2 separate regions of the Homo sapiens genome follow, and region 1 is linked to region 2. Evidence: fine-mapped QTL for protein levels in blood plasma. A gene starts in region 2. The other region holds a variant in brackets. All regions are shown on one strand. Distances are from middle to middle.

What was found. PIP is the chance, under the fine-mapping model, that this variant and not a neighbour inherited with it causes the effect. Protein levels are from antibody-based Olink assays in UK Biobank. Linkage for the fine-mapping came from a reference panel and not from the study's own genotypes, which makes the PIPs less certain.
Region 1: its variant is fine-mapped to the plasma level of the PLXNB2 protein (UK Biobank, PIP above 0.99). The variant lies in the coding sequence of PLXNB2. If it changes the protein, the assay may bind it differently, which can mimic a change of level.

The regions. Positions count from the first base shown.
Region 1 is chr22:50,281,473-50,286,827 of GRCh38, reverse strand. PLXNB2 (plexin B2) reads left to right here. Exons shown (of 37, transcript NM_012401.4): 9 at 541-655; 10 at 730-838; 11 at 927-1,028; 12 at 2,163-2,255; 13 at 2,615-2,696; 14 at 2,838-2,995; 15 at 3,078-3,226; 16 at 3,383-3,491; 17 at 3,642-3,778; 18 at 3,947-4,117; 19 at 4,515-4,644; 20 at 4,747-4,974; 21 at 5,086-5,262; 22 at 5,329-5,355. Among named protein-coding and RNA genes, the nearest start is that of MAPK11, 14 kb to the right of the region's middle. RefSeq lists an enhancer at 3,512-4,711. The variant A/G (reference allele first, on the strand shown) is at 2,849.
Region 2 is chr22:50,304,990-50,310,344 of GRCh38, reverse strand. It overlaps PLXNB2 (plexin B2), which reads left to right and starts at 2,699. Exons shown (of 37, transcript NM_012401.4): 1 at 2,699-2,792. It overlaps DENND6B (DENN domain containing 6B), which reads left to right. Exons shown (of 20, transcript NM_001001794.4): 20 at 1-1,315. RefSeq lists silencers at 1,628-1,677, 2,378-2,427, 2,588-2,787, 2,798-2,867, 3,388-3,538 and enhancers at 4,087-4,456, 3,846-5,045.

The sequences.
Region 1 (5,355 bases), 24 kb after region 2:
AGGCGCCAGGCCCCGTCGTCTCGGCAGACGCCCCTCACCCCTTCCTGCCATGTCCAGCTTCAGAGAGCAGGGCCGTTCCCAGAGGCTGCAGGGCCTCGCATGTGGGCCAGGGCAGGCGTCGCGCCCATGTCCCCTGAGTTTTGGGGGCAGTGGGGCCACGCAGTGACGTGGGCAGGGACCTGGCAGGTCCCACTCAGACTCCAAGGAGCCGCTGCCCTCAGTGCCTGCGGGAACAGAGGGTATGAAAGCAACCTGGACCCGGGGGAGAAAGGCAAGCCCGGTGCTGCGCCCGACACCCGAACCAAGATCTGATAGCAGGTGGCAGGTCCAGCCCAGCGTGAACGGGCGTCCTGGCAGCCCCACCCGAGATCTGATAGCAGGTGGCAGGCCCCGCCCAACATGAATGCGGGGCGTCCTGGCAGGGCCCCCTGAAGACCAGGGGTCTCCACCTTGGCCCCAGGAGTCAGCCCCAGGGGAGGCCCAGCCTGGCCCTCGGCCCTGCGGCCGCCACCTTGACACCTCCCCCTCTGCTGTCTGCAGACCACGTGGCCGTGACCATCCAGCTCCTCCTTAGACGAGGCAACATCTTCCTCACGTCCTACCAGTACCCCTTCTACGACTGCCGCCAGGCCATGAGCCTGGAGGAGAACCTGCCGTGAGTGTCTTGTGCCCATCGACCCCACCCTGCCCGTCCACCCCAGCCCTGCTCACGATCCCCTCTGGATGCAGGTGCATCTCCTGCGTGAGCAACCGCTGGACCTGCCAGTGGGACCTGCGCTACCACGAGTGCCGGGAGGCTTCGCCCAACCCTGAGGACGGCATCGTCCGTGCCCACATGGTGAGGGGCCTCGGGGCCTCAGGGGACTGTTCAGGGCATGGCTGCTCCGCTGTGCCCAGGCAGCACCTGACCAGCCTTACTCTCCCAGGAGGACAGCTGTCCCCAGTTCCTGGGACCCAGCCCCCTGGTGATCCCCATGAACCACGAGACAGATGTGAACTTCCAGGGCAAGAACCTGGACACCGTGAAGGTGCGGAGGGAGGGGTGCCGGCTGGTGACAGGCAGGCTCAGGTGCGGAGGGAGGGGTGCCGGCCGGTGACAGGCAGGCTCAGGTACGGAGGGAGGGGTGCCGGCCGGTGACAGGCAGGCTCAGGTGCGGAGGGAGGGGTGCCGGCTGTGACAGGCAGGCTCAGGTGCGGAGGGAGGGGTGCCGGCCGGTGACAGGCAGGCTCAGGTGCGGAGGGAGGGGTGCCGGCTGTGACAGGCAGGCTCAGGTGCGGAGGGAGGGGTGCCGGCCGGTGACAGGCAGGCTCAGGTGCGGAGGGAGGGGTGCCGGCCGGTGACAGGCAGGCTCAGGTACGGAGGGAGGGGGTGCCGGTTGGTGACAGGCAGGCTCAGGTGCGGAGGGAGGGGGTGCCGGCCGGTGACAGGCAGGCTCAGGTGCGGAGGGAGGGGTGCCGGCCGGTGACAGGCAGGCTCAGGTGCGGAGGGAGGGGTGCCGGCCGGTGACAGGCAGGCTCAGGTGCGGAGGGAGGGGGTGCCGGTTGGTGACAGGCAGGCTCAGGTGCGGAGGGAGGGGTGCCGGCCGGTGACAGGCAGGCTCAGGTGCGGAGGGAGGGGGTGCCGGTTGGTGACAGGCAGGCTAAGGTACGGAGGGAGGGGTGCCGGCCAGTGCTGATGGGTGTGTGGGAAGCCTGAGCTCCACCCGTGCCCCCCGACTCGGGGCCCCCACATGAGGTAGAGGGCACAGGATTTATCGGGGACAGAGGCCAGGAGGCAGCACTCGGGGGCCTTTGGATGGGCCTGAAGAGAGGCAGTGGAGGAGGCAGGCGTGTGGAGATTGAGGGGCCAGTGCCACCTCCTGAGGAGGGAGCTGTGGGGGCCACGATGTCAGGTGGGCCGGGCGATGTTCTCAGGTGTGGATGAGTGGTGGAGGTGGCCGTGGGAAACCCACAGAGGACGTTCAGAGGCTTCTGCAGACACAGGTGTTTGGGCTCAGGAGTGGCCGAGGGGTCAGCTGGCATGGTAATCTGAGGGGCGGGCATGTGTGGGGTGAGGAGAGGGCTCCCACACTGTAGGCACAGAGGAGGGGCTGCAGGGGTTCTGGGAGGAGGGCCAGGGTGCCACAGCCGCCTGTCCAGGGTCCTGACGGCATGGTCTGCAGGGTTCCTCCCTGCACGTGGGCAGTGACTTGCTCAAGTTCATGGAGCCGGTGACCATGCAGGAATCTGGGACCTTCGCCTTTCGGACCCCAAAGGTACGGCTCCAGGGCAGGCCGGCTCGGCTGCTGGACCCCAGGGCCCCGGGTGGGGTGGGGGGTCACCTTCAGGACTGTGAGGGGAGGGGCAGCAGGGAGACCCCAGGGACCAGAGCCCAGCCAGGGGCTCGCCATGCCCTGTGCTGCTGGGGAAGCCCCCTCTGCCCTCTGCCTCCCTGGGGACAGAGTGGCACAGAGCAGCGTCCATGGGGTTCCCGAACTTCCGACACCTGAAGGCCTCCCCTGCTGCCCTTGGCTGGGAAGGGACCCGGTGGCCACAGGGAGGCTGCCCTTGTGACCCCCGCCCCACGCCCCTCTGTGGGGGCAGGAAGTGCAGTGTGCCCCTGCGTGTCCCCCAGCTGTCCCACGATGCCAACGAGACGCTGCCCCTGCACCTCTACGTCAAGTCTTACGGCAAGAATATCGACAGCAAGCTCCATGGTGGGGGCCACGGGCGCAGTGGGGGGCGGGCAGGGGACGGGTGGGCACAAGGCGGTGGGTGGGGGGACAGGTGGGCGCAGTGGGGAGCAGGTCGGGGGCGGGCAGGCACGGGGTGACCACTGACGGCAGCTCTCCCCGCAGTGACCCTCTAC[A/G]ACTGCTCCTTTGGCCGCAGCGACTGCAGCCTGTGCCGGGCCGCTAACCCCGACTACAGGTGTGCGTGGTGCGGGGGCCAGAGCAGGTGCGTGTATGAGGCCCTGTGCAACACCACCTCCGAGTGCCCGCCGCCCGTCATCACCAGGGTGAGCCCCTCGAAGCCTGGCCTACACCTTCCCTCGTCCCTGGCATGAGCCCCTCCCTGCTCACCCGGCTCTGTGGTTTCAGATCCAGCCTGAGACGGGCCCCCTGGGTGGGGGCATCCGCATCACCATCCTGGGGTCCAATTTGGGCGTCCAAGCAGGGGACATCCAGAGGATCTCTGTGGCCGGCCGGAACTGCTCCTTTCAGCCGGAACGTTACTCCGTGTCCACCCGGTGAGTGGACGGCCCTGGTCTGGGCCCTGTCAGCTGGGTCAGTACCCACGCTGGGGTTCCGGGTGACTGGGTGGGTGGGGAGGCTGAGGGGGTGAGGGTGTCAGGGTGTGGGGTGGGTCGGGGAGTGCCTGGGCCACACTGCCTGTCGCCCGCCAGGATCGTGTGTGTGATCGAGGCTGCGGAGACGCCTTTCACGGGGGGTGTCGAGGTGGACGTCTTCGGGAAACTGGGCCGTTCGCCTCCCAATGTCCAGTTCACCTTCCAAGTAAGCACCCGGCCTCGGGGACCTGCCGAACCCGGGAGGACCGGGAGGAGGGGCTCTGCCCGCCGCCTCCCCACGACAGTTACCATCCAGCCCAGGACCGAGGGCGTCCTGTGCCCCGTCCTCACCCGAGTGCCCCTGCGGCTCTTTCAGCAGCCCAAGCCTCTCAGTGTGGAGCCGCAGCAGGGACCGCAGGCGGGCGGCACCACACTGACCATCCACGGCACCCACCTGGACACGGGCTCCCAGGAGGACGTGCGGGTGACCCTCAACGGCGTCCCGTGTAAAGTGTGGGTGTCACCGCCAGCTGCTGAGTCTGGTTGGCCCTGGCCCTGGGTATGGAGGGGGGCACTTACTGAGACCTGAGTGGCCCTGAGGGGATGGCGGGGCCAGCCTGGTCGGGCTGGGGCTGGTCCCGGGGGAGGGGTTGATGCAGACCAGCACCCTCCCTCCCCCAGGACGAAGTTTGGGGCGCAGCTCCAGTGTGTCACTGGCCCCCAGGCGACACGGGGCCAGATGCTTCTGGAGGTCTCCTACGGGGGGTCCCCCGTGCCCAACCCCGGCATCTTCTTCACCTACCGCGAAAACCCCGTACTGCGAGCCTTCGAGCCGCTACGAAGCTTTGCCAGGTGAGGCTGGTGTCCCCCCGCCCCCCTCTGCTCCCCACACCCAGCTGCCTCCTCAGTGCCCTTGGCTGACTGTGCTGAAAGGAATGTGGTGGGGCTGGTCTGTGCAGCGGGAGGCGGCCTCCGGAAAACCCCACTGCACTCCAGATCCACTTCCTCCTAGAAACCCAGATGGGCACACCAGAGGCTCCACGCTCACCAGGCCCCGTGTGCCCCCCGCCCACTTGCGGCACAGTCTCGTGCTCAGCACGTCCCACCGCGTTGCCCCTTTGCCCACCGAGACCCACACATGCACCTGGAAGCCCCGTGTGGTCAGGGCCAGGGTGGGCGGGGACGGGAGGGCGGAGGCTGCAGGGACCACCCCTGCCAGCCGAGCCCACGAAGGCACTGCCCTCCGCAGTGGTGGCCGCAGCATCAACGTCACGGGTCAGGGCTTCAGCCTGATCCAGAGGTTTGCCATGGTGGTCATCGCGGAGCCCCTGCAGTCCTGGCAGCCGCCGCGGGAGGCTGAATCCCTGCAGCCCATGACGGTCAGTCCTGGCGTGGGCTCAGCTCTGGCACCGGCCCATGGGATCGTGCCCAGGAAGGGCGGGGTCTGCGCCCGGGGGCTGACAGCTGGGACTTGCCTGCAGGTGGTGGGTACAGACTACGTGTTCCACAATGACACCAAGGTCGTCTTCCTGTCCCCGGCTGTGCCTGAGGAGCCAGAGGCCTACAACCTCACGGTGCTGATCGAGATGGACGGGCACCGTGCCCTGCTCAGAACAGAGGCCGGGGCCTTCGAGTACGTGCCTGACCCCACCTTTGAGAACTTCACAGGTGGCGTCAAGAAGCAGGTCAACAAGCTCATCCACGCCCGGGTGAGGACGGTGCAGCCCCGGGTGTCTGGGTCCTGCTCGGGTCTGGGCTGAGAGCTGGTCCACCTGTCCCTGGTTCCCTCCTCCTCACCCCGACCACTGCCGCCTCCCCAGGGCACCAATCTGAACAAGGCGATGACGCTGCAGGAGGCCGAGGCCTTCGTGGGTGCCGAGCGCTGCACCATGAAGACGCTGACGGAGACCGACCTGTACTGTGAGCCCCCGGAGGTGCAGCCCCCGCCCAAGCGGCGGCAGAAACGAGACACCACACACAACCTGCCCGAGTTCATTGTGCGTGAGCGGGGACTGGCGGGGGGTGCCCCCACGGGACCGCGCTGAACCCGGCCCCCCACACAGGTGAAGTTCGGCTCTCGCGAGTGGGTG
Region 2 (5,355 bases):
GTTAAGCCCCAGATGTCTGGTGCAGGGTCCAAGGATGTGACCACATGAAACAGAACACATAGAGGCCGAGGTGGCAAACCTGTTCTGTGGCAGGGACAAGCCGGGGACCCGAGGGTGAGAAAGGTCCTGGCCCCAAATGCAGCTTGGGCCTCCTGACTGTAGCACAGGGGGACCAGCCTCCCCACTGAGGGCTTGGTCTCTAGAGGGTCTGCAGAGATGCTGGCACCTCTTGTGTGGGCAGCTTGAATGCTGACCTCCATAAGATGGGGCCTGGGGGGCCAGTACAGGCCCTGCCATCAGCTGCCCTCCACCAGGGCCCTCTGCAAAAGCCTTATGCTGGTGACCAGCCCCCTGAGGACCACCACTTCAAGGTGTCGGGGCAGCTTGGGAAGACAACCCACCTCTCTCACAACTGTGACCCCACTTTGGGGAGCGCACCCCAAGGACCGTGGCAGCATGTGCTTCCCCACAGCACAGTCTCGCCTCACTTGGCTTTCTGAGGGCTGCCGCACAGCACAGAGGGCTGCAGACCCACATGGCTGCAGGGGAGGGGCTTCAGGCTGGTCTCTGAGGAGCCCCCAGGGACCCTGGCCACTGTGTATCCAGAAATGCACAAGCAGATTTCCCTGGAGGGCTCTGGTGAGGCCACATAGTGGCGTGTGAAGGGGGAACTTGAGGGGGGAACCGGGCTGGGTGGCCAGCATTGCCCTGGGCAGAAGCTAAGGCTAAGGTGGGGGGTAGTGTCCCAGCCCCTCTTCCTCAGGGCCTGTCCCCACCTGTGCAGAAGAGGCCTGGGGTGGAATGTGGCCTGGGGTGGATGGGTGGGGGCTGGGCGTGGAGACCTGCCAGCTCCATCTGTCCGGATGCCTCTTGTGGCCCCCCCAGTGTCAGGGCCGCTCTGAGTTGGCTGAGCCTCTGTCCAGGGCTAGGCCATGGCCCTCCCCGCCCCACGCACTCCAGGCCAGGGGCAGTCAGTGAAGAGGCAGGAAGGTCCAGACAGCTCTACCCCTGGCCAGAGTGCCAGCCCCCGCAGGCAAGAGGGCTTGCTGGGCAGAACTTAGTTGGCGAGGGTGAGGACTGCTGTGGTCACAGGCCTCCCGAAGGACAGGGACCACAGAACCTAGAGGGTGGGAAGGGCTGGGAGCAGGTCTGGAGTGGGGCTCGGGGCTGAGGGTGCACACAGGGGGCCTGCTCAGGGACAGGAAGGACAGCTGCTCACCCTCAAGCTTCCTGCTGGCTATTTAAAGACTCCCTTTTAGTCTAGAACAGTGGCCTTCCCACAGTTTTGGTATTAAAATGTCCTTTTGTGACTGGACCTTGTCTTTTCCTTTTTTGATAAAAAGTTGGCAACCTTGTCAGAACCTGGTAATTTTGGGGTCCTCTGCAGTGAAGGGTAGGGTTGCCGTGATGTGGATTGTGGTTCAAGGCCCAAGGGAAGATTTTGGACAGGAACAAGGCCTGGCTGCTTGAGGGTGGGAGAAGGCAGAGACTGAAAGAACTAAGTCAGGCTGGGGGAGTTTGTCAGGATGTGGCGGGGCGGATCCCGGGTGGGGGAAGCAGAGGAGGAGGGGATGCCTGGCTGGGGACAGGAGGAAGCTGACCAGCTGCAAGGACGGGGCAGGTCTGGGTGGAAGGCGGGCCCCAGGGAGGGGTGACCCAGGGTGGGGGCAAGAGCTTGGGGAATGCTTCTGTCTCCTGCTCAGCACATCCAGTTCCGGGAGGGCAGTGGAGGCGTGCTCCAAGGTCTGGCCCTGCAGACGGTTCACCACCTCTTCTCAAGCCCAGGGGACACTAGGAGCACTGAGGCCAGGACTTGGGACCTGGGATGCCAGAAGTGGGGCCAGCTCTGTCCCAGAAACCAGAACCCCCAGAAAGAGGTCTCGGCCCGCCCACCTCCTGGCCCTGAAGGACCAGGTGGGGTCCCGGGTGCAGCATCCCAAGGTGCTGCTGGAGGCCAGGGATGTGCTGGGAGGCCATCTCCAGGTCCCAGTTTACCCTGGGAGGTTGAGGGCCTGAGACCCCTGGGAAAGGGCCAAAGCCCAGCAGCCCCCACCCCTGAAGGCCGCAGGGGAGCGACTGGTATGCTTCCAGTCTGGGAGTGAGAGTCTGGTGCCCACACATCTCAAGACTGGCAGGGACCCTCACGTTCCTCTGGCCAGGCGAGAGTGCACTCATAATGCCCTCCCCTGGTACCAAGCCATGGCCTCCCCTCAGACCTGCGGGGTTCCTGTGGGGGTGCTCAGGCCATGGGGCCTCTGTGGGCGCTCGTGCTTCCTGGACGGCGGCATGGTGGGCAGGGTGCTGCCCTGGCTGAACCTGGGTCTGAACTGGGGTGCCTGAACCTACCAGACAATGCTGTGGCCGCTGGGCAGGGGAGAAGTGGGGGGCGCGGGGAGCGCAGGCCCAGCCCCTCCCCTCCCGTCCCCTCCCCTCCTCTCCGGTTCTCTTCTGCCCTCTCCTCCCCGCTCCTGCTCCCCCTCCCCTCCCCCTCCCCCTCTTCCCCCTCCCCCTCTCCCCCTCCCCCTCTTCCCCCTCCCCCTCTCCCCCCTCCCCCTCTCCCCCCTCCCCCTCCCCCTCCTTCTCCCCCTCCGCTTTCCCTCTCCCTCTCCCCCCTTCTCCTGTTCTCCCCGCCCTCCCCTCCTCTCCCTCGTCGGGGGCGGGGCCGGCAGCTCCCGCGCGCTCCGGCCCCTCCTCGGCCACACAAAGGCCCCGTCTCCATGGCAGCAGCGCGGGCCAGAGCGCAGCGCCGAGCGCGGCCCGGGCGCCATCGAGCCTTGGCGGCGGACGTGCAGGTACCGAGCTCGGGGGACTGGGCTGCGGGGGACGTCTCGCTGGGCGTGGGGGGGGCTTCGCCGTCAGCGCCGCTCCGCCCGGGCCTGCCGCGCTGGGGCCCGGGGACCTGCGGCGGCTGCGGCTCCGCGGAGGGCTCCCGGGGCCTGGGCCCCGTCCGTCGGTCCATCCGGCGAGGCCCGGGCCGCTGCCGCCCCACTCCCTTCCCGGTGTTGACTCGGGGGACGGGCCCGGCGGCGGGGGCTGCGCGTCCCTCCGGAGCCGCGTCGGATCCCTCCTCCGCGCCTGCCTCTCACTCTTCAGCCGCCGAGCTCCGTGCGCCGAGCGGAGATGGTCTCGCGGTGCGGGCGCTCCGGGCCGGCCCCAGGCTCAGCGGCACAGGAGCCTGGATTTGCCCGAGCTCCCGGGGGCCGTCCCCGCACCCCCTGGGGCCTGCTTGGCGCGGGGGGACCAGGGCGGAGAGCACCCGCACCTGGCGAGACCCCACTGCCTGGGCCTCCTCGCGGTTCCCAGAGTGGCGTCTGGGTGGACACCCCGAGACACAGAAAGTCTCAGAAGCGGGGGCGCGAGCCCTGCCTGTCCCCTGCTGACCCTGCCCCTCCGCACCCTGCTCCTGCAGGAAGCCCCTGCCCTGCCAGCGCCCCTGGTCGGGCTATTCGGCAGATCTGGGGAGCCCGCCTCCCCCTGTCATCTGGGGGTCTCAGAGCCCGGACGCCCTGGGGCTTCCTGCCAGGCCCTTGATTTCTCTTCCCGAAGCTCCCTGGGAAAGGAAGAAAGGGGTCCGTCTGCCCACTGTGGGCTGTGGCAGAGTCAGGACAGGGGGTGAGGGTGAGGGTGAGGGTGAGGGTGAGGGTGAGGGTGAGGGTGAGGGTGGGCCCCAAACCCGGCAGATCCCGGCGGCCTGGAGGGCTCCCTGTGCCCCACCTTCCCTGGACCCCCCCGCCCTCCCCACTTAATGTCTGACTTCGGCCCTTGCTTGGAGGTTCGGCGCAGCCTGTGAGGCTTTAAAGTTGAGCTTCCTCAGGAGCCCTTTGCGGGTGGGAGAGCGAGGCTGCCGGGAAGTGGGGGCTCTCAGCCTGCCCCATGCCCAGATGACCCTGGCACGGAACAGCTGAACAGCTGGTGGGAGGAGCCCTCCCTTTCCTGTCCAGAGGTGAGGGTCTCCCGGAGGGCAGGGCCAGCAGGCATAGGTTTGTGGCGAGTCAGCTTTTTGCATGTTGCATAGAAATCCCCAGAGCCGACTGAGAAGCAAGCAGGTGGGCCTGGCACATCTGAGTCCTCCCACGGTACCTATGGGGGGCCCACCTCTGTCCCGGGGGGTCTGGGAGGCCTGAGGTCTGGCCAGGGGTTCCTTGCCCCAGTAGAGGAGGGAAGTTACTGAGAAAAACAAGGGTTTGGAATGTGAGTCCCCCTCCCCCACCGGCTGCCTGCCAAGAAAGAATTATTTTGGATCATCCAGCCGTGTCCAGTCACCCGAAGCGGGAGGCTGCAGCGTGGGAGAAGGATCCACTTCCGGGACGTGGGTTGAGGGCCCCAGGAGGAGGACGGGCAAGTCCGGGCAGCTCTGCCACTTTCTACTGCAGCTGCCCAGACTGGGCGGGGAGAAGATGCGTCACCTTTGGGTTGGAGAAAGCCCCAAGGTTGGCCCCAGCAGGCCCTGCTGAGCCTGCAGTGGGCCCAAGCCCCTCTGGGGGAGACCATGGAACAGGAGGAGCTCTGGGCCCACCCAGGGACCCCCTCGCCCCACCCAGGGACCCCCTCGCCCCGAGAAGTCTCAATGGTGGTCTGAAGAGCCTCTGAGGTACCCTCCAGGCCCAAGTTCAGGGACACACCCTGTGCCAGTGACCTGTGCGTGCCAGGGAGGAGCAGGCAGGAGCGAGGCTAGGCTGCTAGGGAGGGCACTGGGGTTTCCCTCAGGGGGCCCTCCTGCCCCAACGGACTCCCTATTCAGCTCCTGACTAACGGACCAGCCTCCCTCCAAGCCCCTCCGACAGCCAGTCCTTGCCTACGACCCCCTCTGGATATGGCGCCTGTGAGCCCATCCTGCAGGTGGGGAGACTGAGGCCAGAGATAGGTCTATGTGAGGAGTCATCTGCGATGCTGTGTGGCCAGGGCTGTGGCTACCTGGCGCTCTGGGTCCATGCTGTGTGTGCGCCCGGGGTGTGTGCCCGGCGGCCTGCATGGGGACCACATCGGGGAGGAGGAGCCGGCAGCTGGCCCCAAGTGCAGAAAGCCCAGAGCCTTGGACCCGGCCCAGGGAAGTGGAGCAGAAGAGATTGGATTGGAAGGTGGTGGGGAGGGCCCATATGGCACAGTCCTCCTCCCATCCCAGGACGTCGTCCGTGCTCACCGTGTCCTGCCCCCTGCCTCACCCTGTGCCAGCCACAGCTGATGGTCCCCCTGGGACGCGGGCGTGGGCAGGGGTGCACTGGCTGGGAGAGGCTGTGTCTTCCGGCCCCTCATATTGTGCCTTCTCTGAGCTAGGCAGGCACTTGGATGCCAGGCCTCTGCCACGAGGGCTGCCTTCCCCTGAGCTGGGAGTTCTCACTCAGCTCATGCCTCCGT